Linked DNA regions of Homo sapiens: region 1 is linked to region 2. The links come from fine-mapping of genetic effects on gene expression. A gene starts in region 2. The other region holds a variant in brackets. All regions are shown on one strand. Distances are between the middles of the regions.

Region 1 (5,379 bases), 28 kb before region 2:
CAGTGGCTCTCCCACGCAGTTGGGCAAATTCTTTGGGCCTCCCTGATTTTCCTTAATAAGCCCTTTCTGTCTTCACTCTCCAAGAACTCATTAAATCCTTTCTTGATGCTATTTTCATTCTGTGGTTCGAATATCAGAGTAAGGAGTGCCATAAAATTGTCCCCAGCAGGAGATTTCTTTCGTGAATCCTGAAATAAATTTTGTCCAGCTTTAAGGAGTGGTGGCCACTCCGAGACTCAGCAAACATGTCAGCTTCGACCCTGACTGTGACTTGATTTTACAGCATGTTGCTCCTGCCAATCAGTGCGTCCCTGATGGACATGTCTTCATTTATTCAGTCAGCTTGGCTTAGTGTTCATTCTTGAGAAAATCCAGCCTGGTCCCTTAGGACCTTCCATTAATAGACTGGCTTTGTTGCAGTCACTACTCCGACCCTGCTGTTTCCTCTCAGTTTAGTTGCTTTGCCAATTCACTTTCACTCCAGCCTTCTCTTACACTTTTCAGCCTCCTGTCACAATGGAGGCTTAAATGGGCAGCTTCTCTCTACTTGGAAGGACGAATGCCAGATAAGGGTGGGTTTGAGAAGGATTCAGGGGCCAGGACCACACCTTACCCAGAGCCTGAGCATTACCCTTGCTGTTCTGGGTCTGCTCCATCCTTTTTGTACCTTGGATCCTGCAATTAAAAGAGAAAGCAGAGACTGCCTAGCTCACAGACCCCGAGGATAATTTACTGACTTCATGGCACCTGAGAGTGTCATGAATGCCTGGCTCAAGCCCAGCTCCAGAGAGTACATTTCAAAAAATGTCAAATAGATGTAAAGTACCCCCTCCCCACTGGTATTGCATATTATATGATTTCACTGAAACCCCATCCTGAACATCGCCATAAGAACATCATCATAGAACCCACATTCTCTGACTAGCACTGGGGGCATGATTAGGGACAATTAAAGCACAAATGCAGTGTTCATTCCCAATTAAAAGAGATTTGACTTCAAAGGTCCAATATGAATTCTTTCCTTAAAGAAGCACACTAGAGCATGGTAATTAGAGATTCGGGTTCTAGTGCCAAACTACTGGATTCAAATCCAAGCTCTGCCACTTGCTAGCTGTGTGACTTGGGCAAGATGTTTAACCTCTTCTGTGCCTCAATTTCCTCATTTGTAAAATAGAAATAATAATAGCAATCAACTTGTAGGGATGCTGTGAAGAATAAAAGTGTCAGTACATATAAAGCGCATAAAACAGCACCCAGCAGATAGCAAGTGCTCAGTAAAAGGAGCACTCGCCAGTCTCCTCTTGATGGACTTTTATACTGCATGGAGCTCCCTGGGAGTACACAGACAGAAGTTTCCAGATGGATGTGGGGTCTTTCAAAATCCTGACATCAGCAACATTTTATGTGAGTTCCCCAATGTCCACAGTCATGGTTCAGACAATGACCAAGATTATGCACATTTCACACACTGTCTATAAGAAAGATGAGCCCAGTGTAGTCATCCCCCACCCCGCTTTCCAATATTTTTGAGAGAAGTTCCTCAACTGCCACAGTAAAGAAGTCTTTATCAATGCAACCCCAACAGTCCAGCGTCAGCCATGGTGAAGGCCAATTGTGGTCTCCCAGTGAATGACGGACACAAATAAGTCAGAAAATACCCTTCACTCTCAAGGTAGGAATAATTTCATATATCTTCAGTTCTCATATATGGCTAGGGGGGTTCTCAAACATTTTATTTAAATCTCATTTAAAATTTATTTTAACCATCTAAACAAACCATAATGACAATGTGGTATATACCCAATTTTGATACATAGAGGCCACCAGCCCATTAGCTTAGGATGCCAGATTAACTTATTTTTATGCAGGCCTCTGAATGAAGTTTTCTCGTTTTAATTAAAAATTACCCCGAGACTAAAAGTCAAGCTGTGAAAAGGCTATTGCTGTTTGCAACTACTCAACTGTATAAATCGGGATTTCTTGGTGCTATGCAACCCAAACCAAAATCTAGAGAGAAACTGGTTGCCAAGACTGATACAACTCTGTAATTTGATGCATAGGCCCTGATTTCAATTTCCTGTGCTCATCAAAACAACATCATTCACATCGATACAGAGTAGGTATCACCAATTACAAAATATATGCATGCTCATAAAATACTGCTCTCATCTCTTATGTGTTTAAGGGTTCCAAATAAATATTTTATTATTGAAAGAAGTCTGAAATCCCACTATAATTGTTATAATGTATGCCAGTGTCCCTCAAAACCCTCCTCCACGCCTCTCCCAGAGCAATGCAATCTCTCCATTATACGCCTATGATTGTGACTCTCTCCTACTTGAAAACTTTCAGCAGCTCCTCCCATTCCCCATAAGACAAAGTGAGGACTCCTCGGCTTGGCAGACAAGGGCATAGCAATCTCATTCCCACACACTGTTCACTGGCATCTCTTGTTCCCTGGCATCAGTCCCTGCTCCAGCTGCACAGAACTACTTGGTATTTCCTAGGAAATGTCAGGTATTTTCATGCTATTCCCTTGGTCCCAAATGCCCTTATCTCTCTCCCGCTCCCAGCCACCTCCCCTCACTCCAACTCAGTTCTGAAATTCATCCGTCAGGACCCAACTCAAGCAGCATCTCCTTAAGCAGCCCATGGCTCATTGGTGCCCCTGTAGTGCCTTACGCCTGGCTCTATAGTGAAATCATCAGCGTGCATCTCCACGTTCCCCACCTGATTGAGAGCTTCTGCTGATGTAGTGATGTATTTGTCTTTATATTCTGGCACACA[C/A]AGGTGTTTAATAACGTAGAAGGAAGAGAGGGAGGAGAAAGAGGGAAGAGGGAAGAGGACAGAAGGGGAGGAAGTGACAGCCAAGCCTCTCATGCCATGCCTGCCCACCTCCCAGGATCACAGAAATAGCCCTTCCAGATTAAGCTGTGTTCCTGGACTACCTGCATGACTACTCTTTTCCATGCTCTTTCAAGATAATAATACCTTTGATTCCATTTCAGCGTGGTGACACTGAATAACGTTTGTGAAGCAGCGTTACTCCTATTATACAGATGAGGTAACTGAGACCAGAGACATAAGGTGATGGGCCAGAATTCTGCCAAGGGCCTGGTCTAATTCCTCTAAGGGCCCAGTTTACCATCACTGTGTGTTCAGTTCATATGTATGTGTGTGTAAGTCTGCACACTTTGGTGGGGCACTGTGGTGGGAGGAACATGGCTTAGTCTTTTCTATTAAAGAGATGATTGAGCCAAAGCTACCATTTCGTGAATTAGAAGCAGCATTTTGCCTTGGGCTTTTTATTCTGTGCAAATAGGTTGGTATGGAAACCATGCTTCTGAGGTTGCAATCAAAACACCATTTGCCTCTATTGGTGTTCTTAAAATGCTACATGCTGATAGTAGATGAGAAATTTTTACATTTACCACATCAATTCTTTCTTGTCAACAAGCATCTATCTATAAATGGTTGTAAAGTAATTGTAGCAAACTCTTTCAAAATATTCCATATTTGTGCTCTAACAGCAAACAATAAATATAGCTACTTTGACTAGATGGTAAGCTCCGTGAAGGTAGTGATATTTCATTCATCTCTGGGTGCTCAAGGATTAGATAGGGAATGGCACCAAGGAGACATTCAGTAAATGGGGTTTGATTGGATAAACAAGACAACTGGCAGATTTGCCAACACAGGTTAACCACAACCTTTTACACTGTCCTAGCCCTACACAACCTTCAAAGCCTTCTTGCTACTTTACTTGGTCTTCCCACCTTTTCCGCAAGTTAAACAGGCGACATATTATTAGTTCCATTATGCAAAGGAGAAAATAGAAACTCAGCAAAGTCCAGTGACTTAGCTGGGCTGGTCAACAAGCACCGGAATCCAGGTTAGAACCCAGACTTGCCAGCTCCTGGGGAAACACCCTCCCCTCCTCCTCACGCAGCCCCCCCGCCCTGCCCCACTCCACCGAATGCCTCCACACACTGAACAGCCAGTACCTGCTCAACAGGCTCCAGAACACCCACAACTGACTCCCATACCTTCTCCGCTGTTTCATGAGCACCTCTATGTGATTTAGTTTAATGCAGACCTCTCCAAAATGCATCTGGACTCACAGCCCAGCTCCTCTTCCACAGCTTTTCCTTGACCCTGCACATCCCTTTTTTCCTAATTAGCTTTGGCTTACCTTAGTTTTCACTGAAGTCTGCCCTGCGAGAGTTCTGGAGTACGGTGTATTTGTACACTAGAGTTTTTTTTGGTGTTTATCGACATTAATTTCTAGGAGGCTATGTGAGTGGGGATGATAATGAATCACTCTGGGTACTTTTCCGCAGAGAATGAGCCCAGGGACCACCATGGTGGCTGGGCTGATGCGGACGTGGAGCTCCCTGAAATGTAATCAGGGGATGCTTTACAGTGCTTTAGGGAAGTAGGGACTCACAGGAGAGAGGTCTGTTTCTGTCATCTTGCCTTTTTGTCTCACTCCAACGGTTAGGAGTAACCATCAATACCCATGGAGACCAGATGGGAGAAGCCCTTCCTGCTCCGGGCTGCTCACTTTAGAGGGCCCGCCCCCCGCAGGGCCAAGACCAGAGTGAGGCAGGAGCCAGCCTGCCTTTGTATGACCCTGAGAGTGATGCCTCCTTCAATTTTGCACTGAGGCACGTCACCTGCCTCACCCTAGTCCCAGCCCTGCTGTCCTGGCCCTTCTTTGACCAGACCCACCGTAAGGGGAGAATTTGCAATGTTGACGTCCTGTGCCTACCCAGACCTGCGTCTCTCTCTCTCTAGATCCTGAAATTCCCAAGGTCCCTGAGCCCGCTTCCAGAGGCTGCACAGGTACCCCTGCTGGGCATACCCCTAAGCAGGATGGAGTGTCTGCACGGCTGTGCAGACAGCCCTTAGCTGAGGGCGTGGGGAGAAAAGGTGGCCAGAAGCCTACTCTCTTCATCAACCAAGCTCCAGGACAGAATCCAAAAATTCAAGGATTCAAAATTTGGATCTGACCTTCCATATTTTTATATGGTCTATTTTTTATGGTAGGAAGATAGAACGTTTTTAGTTTAACAGTGTGTTAGGGTGATGTATTACTCTGAACTATTTAGACATGTGGTATACGGGCCTCTATCCACACTCTTGTCTGGACCCCATAAATGTGAGCCTGGAGGAGTCTTGAGAGAGGATGACCCAAACGTCAGAAGACTCTGTGGAGAAATGACCCCTACACACACACCTACTACTATAGGTCTCTATTGCTTGTATAGGACCATTGCAATGAATTCTTTGTCGGATTTATGATCCTGCCTGCCAGGTAAAGTGTCCAGGTGGTATGTAAGCATGTGTATGAGGGGATAGGCTTAACATGGTCACTCA
Region 2 (5,379 bases):
GTATCTAGGAAGTAACTAACTTGCTTTTGATTTTACAGGCTCATAGGCAGAAGAGACTTGCCTTGTCTCAAATGAGACTTTGGACTTGGACTTTTGGGTTAATGCTGGAACGAGTTAAGACTTTGGGGGACTGTTGGAAAGGCATGATTGTGTTTTGAAATGAGGACATGAGATTTGGAAGGGACCAGGATAGAATGATATGATTTGGCTCTCCCCTCACCCACAATCTCATTTTGAATTGTAATTTTGAATTGTAATTACCACGCACTGGGGGAGGGACCTCATAGTAGGTGATTGGATCATGGGGGCAGTTCCCCTATGCTATTCTCATGATAGTGAGTGAGTTCTCACAAGATCTGATGGTTTTATAAGGGGATTTCCCCCTTTACTCTGCACTTCTTTCTCCTGCCAGCATGTGAAGAAGAGTGTGTTTGCTTCCCCTTCCACCATGATCATAAGTTTCCTGAGGCTTCCCCAGCCATGCAGAACTATGAGTCAATTAAATCTCTTTCCTTTATAAATTACCCAGTCTCAGGCAGTTCTTCATAGCAGTGTGAGAACAGACTAATACACTACCATCATCATTCAAAAGAATAAGGGCTTACTTCTCATTGAGGTGATCACAGAAGGCTTCCTAGAAAAAGCAGCCTCTGAGACAGGCCCACAGGGATGAAGAGGGTTTGAGCTGATATAATGGGCATTGGGCAGTCCAGACAAAGAGGATTGAATCAGCAAAGGCAAAGGGATAAGAAAGCATAGAGCAGAGTATGTCATATGTGTGTCTGCAGCTCATGAGCCATGAAGAGGAGTAATGAAAATAAGATCTTAAAAAAAACACCAGACAGTTCAAAGCTAAGTCTGCAACCTACTATGTGAACTTGGACAACTCAGGCCATCTCTTCAAATTTCAATTTTCTCATTTGTAAAATAAGAGTAATAACTCCTGCTTTCCAAGGAATAATCTCCCTCCTCGAGTATCTTGTCTCTCTCTGTTATTCTCCATGCCATAAAGTCAGAGTAATCTTTCTAAAATGCAAATATGAGCATGTGAGCCCCATCTCTACCCCATGAGTCTTTGTGGCCTTCAGGATCAAACAGGAGCTCCATGGCATCGCTCACAAAGTCCTCCATGATCTCGCCTGGCCTCACCTCTCCATCCTCACTGCCAGCACTTGCTCCCTCCACAGCAAAATTTGGGATCACACTGACATACGTGCCATACTTCAGTGCCTTCAGGCACTCTCACAACAGAGAGACTTTGCATCTGCTCTCCCCTTTCCCATGTAACTGACTCCAACTGACCCTTCGAGACTCAGCACAGACATCACTTCTCCAGGAAGCTTCCTTCTATGCATACAGCACCTGTTGGGCCCTATATTGTGCTCATTTACTTCCTTCTCTCTCCTTTCTCACTGGTTTTTGCATCCCAGGGCTAAGCACAGAGCCTGGCACAAAGTGGGAATTCAGTTAAAGTACATTAAAGGAGGGAAGGAAAGAAGGGAGGGGGGAGGGAGAGACAGAGGGGGAGGTACAAATAAGATAATGTGAATTAAAATGACTTTAAAAATTGTAAAGCCCAATACAAATGTTAAGTATAATAATATTAATAAGAACTACACCTAAGCTGTGGATCCTTCCCCCCAAAATTTATAATCCAGTAGGGTAGATAAGATCTCTCAAAACTGAAGCAACTCCCGTTTCCCCTGCAGACTACTGTCTCCCCTGCATCTTTCCCTGTCAACACATAGGGTTGTACCCAATGAGGATAAAAGCCTGAAATGCTGACTCCAGGACAGTATTGGCTTAAATGTGATTTTCATGTGTCACATGAAATGTTCTTTTCACGCCAAAACCTCCCCAGTCATGCCTTCGTACTCCACTGAACTGTCTTCCTAACCCTCCAGCAGGAGGAAGGAAAGACTTTGTCAGACTCACCTAGGTCAGTCACCTCCAAATTGCCCCGAAAATCATTCCACTGGACCCAGAGCACCCATGCCAGTTCAGCTCACAGACAGCGCAGCAGCCCCAACATCTTGCCTATAGAAAGAGGTACCAGCCCCACCTCCCTATTCCCTACACCAGCCACAGCCCAGGACCTATAGGACTGGACCTCCCAAGAGCTGCAGGCCTTGCTTTTCCAGGAGAAACAGAGGTCATGGTTTGTATCAAACCACACACATTCTTTCTTGTGCCTACAGATGAGACTCACAGGACACAGGCAGTGAGGCTGCAGGACAGCAGGCTTGGGAGAGCCAGTCAAGCACCCATAAGATAGTAGAGAAGCAGCAACAGAAGGTGAGGTTTGGATTTCTTCTCTGGGGTTGTGTGATTGCTCTTGAGCTGATGTCCCTCTGAGTGGAGAGGCAGGCCTGATCTAGAGAGAATTCCAGGGCATGGCCAGTCTTTTCTTCTGCCTCAGTACCAAGGAAGCTTGGCTTTAAACCCAGCCTCTGAATAAACTGGCCTCACCTCATGTACTGCTCCACCTCAAAATTCAACTGCCCAAGCTCATGTGCTAGCCTAGAAAAAAAAATGGCCTTTAAAATTACAGGACTCCTTGCTCCTCTTTTTGAGTGGAAGTTCAACGTAATAACGATTTGTTGAGCACCACATATGTGCAAAGCACTTGATAGATCTAAGAGGGATGAAAGAGGATAATAAAGGGCAGTCCCTGGGGAGGAAACAGGAAATTGGCCACACAGGGCCCCTGCTAGGATCCAGCCCCTGTACCAGAGCTGCCTCAGGAGGCTCTTTCCACCAGCCTAGAATCCCAAGGGCAGAGGAGGGAGAGAGAAAGAAAGAGAGAGAGGCCACAGCAGGGATGGCACAGAGACGTAACCTTACCATAGGGGTCAGTGGCACTGTTGTAAAGCCTCAGGGTCTACTAGGCAATGTTCCGCTCCTGTTCTCAGGCCAGCATTGATTAAAGCTAGCCCAGCAAGCTTGGTTGGAAGATGAGGTCTCCCTGGTTCGCACATGGCCCCTCCCTGTATCCCTACTCCAACACTCACACAGACACGCGCCACAGAGACAATGAACTCTGCTGAGGACCCATGAATAGGCCCCTTGTTGCAGGAAAGGGGGACAAGGGCTGGGCTGGGCTAGGCAACCCCAGCCCCTCCCATCTGCTAACTGGAAACTCAGAAACAGAGGAAAAGGTTATGGGGAGGAGGGGAGGCCAACTACTGTTGCTTAGCAACAAGGTCCCTTGTGCCAAAAAGTGTGCCCCATGCATGCATGCTGGCAGAATTCTCCCTTCCTGCTGACAGAGCTGTATTGGAGAGACCGATATTAGCATTTGTTGAAATGTTTCTGAGCCCTCTGGATTTTATCTCGCCTCCATGTGGGTTGGCTTTTCTAGCAGTCTGGGGCTGTCACCATGTTGGAATTGTTGGGGTGATGATGGAAGATCTTTGTCACCTCTTGCCCGAGGGCCACATCTGTCTCCCCAATGCCAGGGAAGTGGGGCCTCTACCCCTGTCTGCCCTGGGAGCCAGTTGCAGCAGGAGCCCTCAGTGCTATCTTGTTTCAAAGCACAAGGTGACCCAAGTGAGCCCACACGGGGCTAAACACACCTGGGAGCAGGCACATCTCTTTAGACAAGGAGGCAGAATAGGTCCTGGGGAAGGCAAACACAGGTGGGGCTTCCTTTCCTCCAACTGGCTGCTCAAAAACCCCTCAGAAGGGACAGTTAAGAATATAGGCTTTAGAGTCAGGCCTTCATCCAACCTCAGTTCTCCCACTTCCCTTACTCAGCCTCACCTGTAAAATGAGGATAATAGTACATGCCTCATAGGGTTGATGTCAGAATTCATTGAGATATTGCCTATAAAGCCCATAGCCTGGTGTCTAGCACAGACTGTATTCAGCAAACAGTAGCTGCTATTATTATTGTTGTTGTTGTTGTTGTTGTTGTTGCTGAATGTCACCCACACAGGATTTAACTTTTTGCTCCCTATTTTCCTCATACACTGTATTAGTCAATTCTTGCACTGCTATAAATAAATACCTAAGACTGGACAATTTCAAGAGAAAAGAAGTTCTCACTGTTCCACAGGCTGTACAGGAAGCACAGTGACTTCTGCTTCTGGGGAGGCCTCAGGAAGCTTCCAATCATGGTGAAAGAAAAAGGGGGAGCAAGGCCTCTAACATGGCAGGAGCAAGAGCAAGAGAGAGAAGGGGGAGGTGCCACACACTTTTAAACAACCAGATCTCATGAGAACTCTATCACGAGAATAGCACCAAGTGGATGATGAATCATGAAGGTTTCTTGATCATGAAGGATCCACTCCCATGATCAAATCACCTCCCATCAGAGTCCACTTTTAACATTGAGGATTATAATTTGACATGAGATTTGGGTTGGGACACAGATCCAAACCATATCATACACTCAGTGTGTCAATTCTGAACTTACTCTCATCACACCAGAGCACACATAAGACAATGAAGAGATAGAGGTCAGCTGTGAATTATAGAAGAAGGAGAGAAATGGTGGCTGGAACTCAGAAGCCCTTGGCTAGGCTCTGAGGTCTCCTAGGACAATACTCTTCAGACTACAAACCTGAATATCTACCGTGTGTCAGAAACTAGCCTGGGCATGGAGGATGAACAAGTCACAGACTGGGTGCTTACAGACTGGAAAAAGGGATAGAAACAGATGTAAGTAACTGTTATTATGAAAAGTGAAATAACAAAGACATAAACCCAGAGGTATAGGAGAATAGAGGAATAGCTGCCCTGAGGATACAAAGAAGAGGGCTTTGCAATGGAGGAGACATTTGAACTGAGTTTTGAGAAGTGACAAAGCAATCACAAAGAAGGGTAATTAAAATATATTGCACGTAATGTCAATGAAAATGGTAGGAGTAAAATCCTCTGAAAATTTCCTCCCCCCTAAAAGCAATGAGAAAAATGGCAAAAAATGGTGAGAATCAATTTTTTCAGAACTCTGGAAATTAATCAAAAGTTTATAGCAATCTGGGAAGTCTTCGTTCAAGAAAAAAAATGACATAATTATAGAAAGAAGAGTGAGCCTTGTGGCATTTTAACTTGCTCCAATTCCATCCCCCTCACCCCAACTCTGCAGTAGCTTTGAAAACCAACAAACCACAATCATCATGGAAACCAGCAGCCTGGCAGCTACAAGAAGGGGTAGAACAGCCTTGGAGTTCCTTCAAAGCCTCATTCCCAGAGAGTTGTAATTATTTGACCTGTCTAGTGGTTCCCTGGAAGATACCATTTGCAAGACTGTCTTTATTTCACCTGTCTCAAAGCTTGCCTGGAGTGAACAGCTTTTTCCTTAAGGGTATTTGTTGAAAACAACTAGAGACAATTGTTGGACTTTGTGGCTGCCTAAAACAATGGATAACAGTTGAG

Evidence for each region. PIP is the estimated chance that this variant, and not a neighbour inherited with it, causes the effect.
Region 1: its variant is the best candidate, but not a certain one, in a credible set for the expression of TMPRSS5 in whole blood (INTERVAL, PIP 0.59).

Annotation. Positions count from the first base shown.
Region 1 is chr11:113,675,412-113,680,790 of GRCh38, forward strand. All of the region lies in intron 1 of LOC107984390 (a long non-coding RNA gene), which reads right to left. Among named protein-coding and RNA genes, the nearest start is that of TMPRSS5, 28 kb to the right of the region's middle. The variant C/A (reference allele first, on the strand shown) is at 2,788.
Region 2 is chr11:113,703,378-113,708,756 of GRCh38, forward strand. It overlaps TMPRSS5 (transmembrane serine protease 5), which reads right to left and starts at 2,931. Exons shown (of 13, transcript NM_030770.4): 1 at 2,845-2,931. The coding sequence starts at 2,847.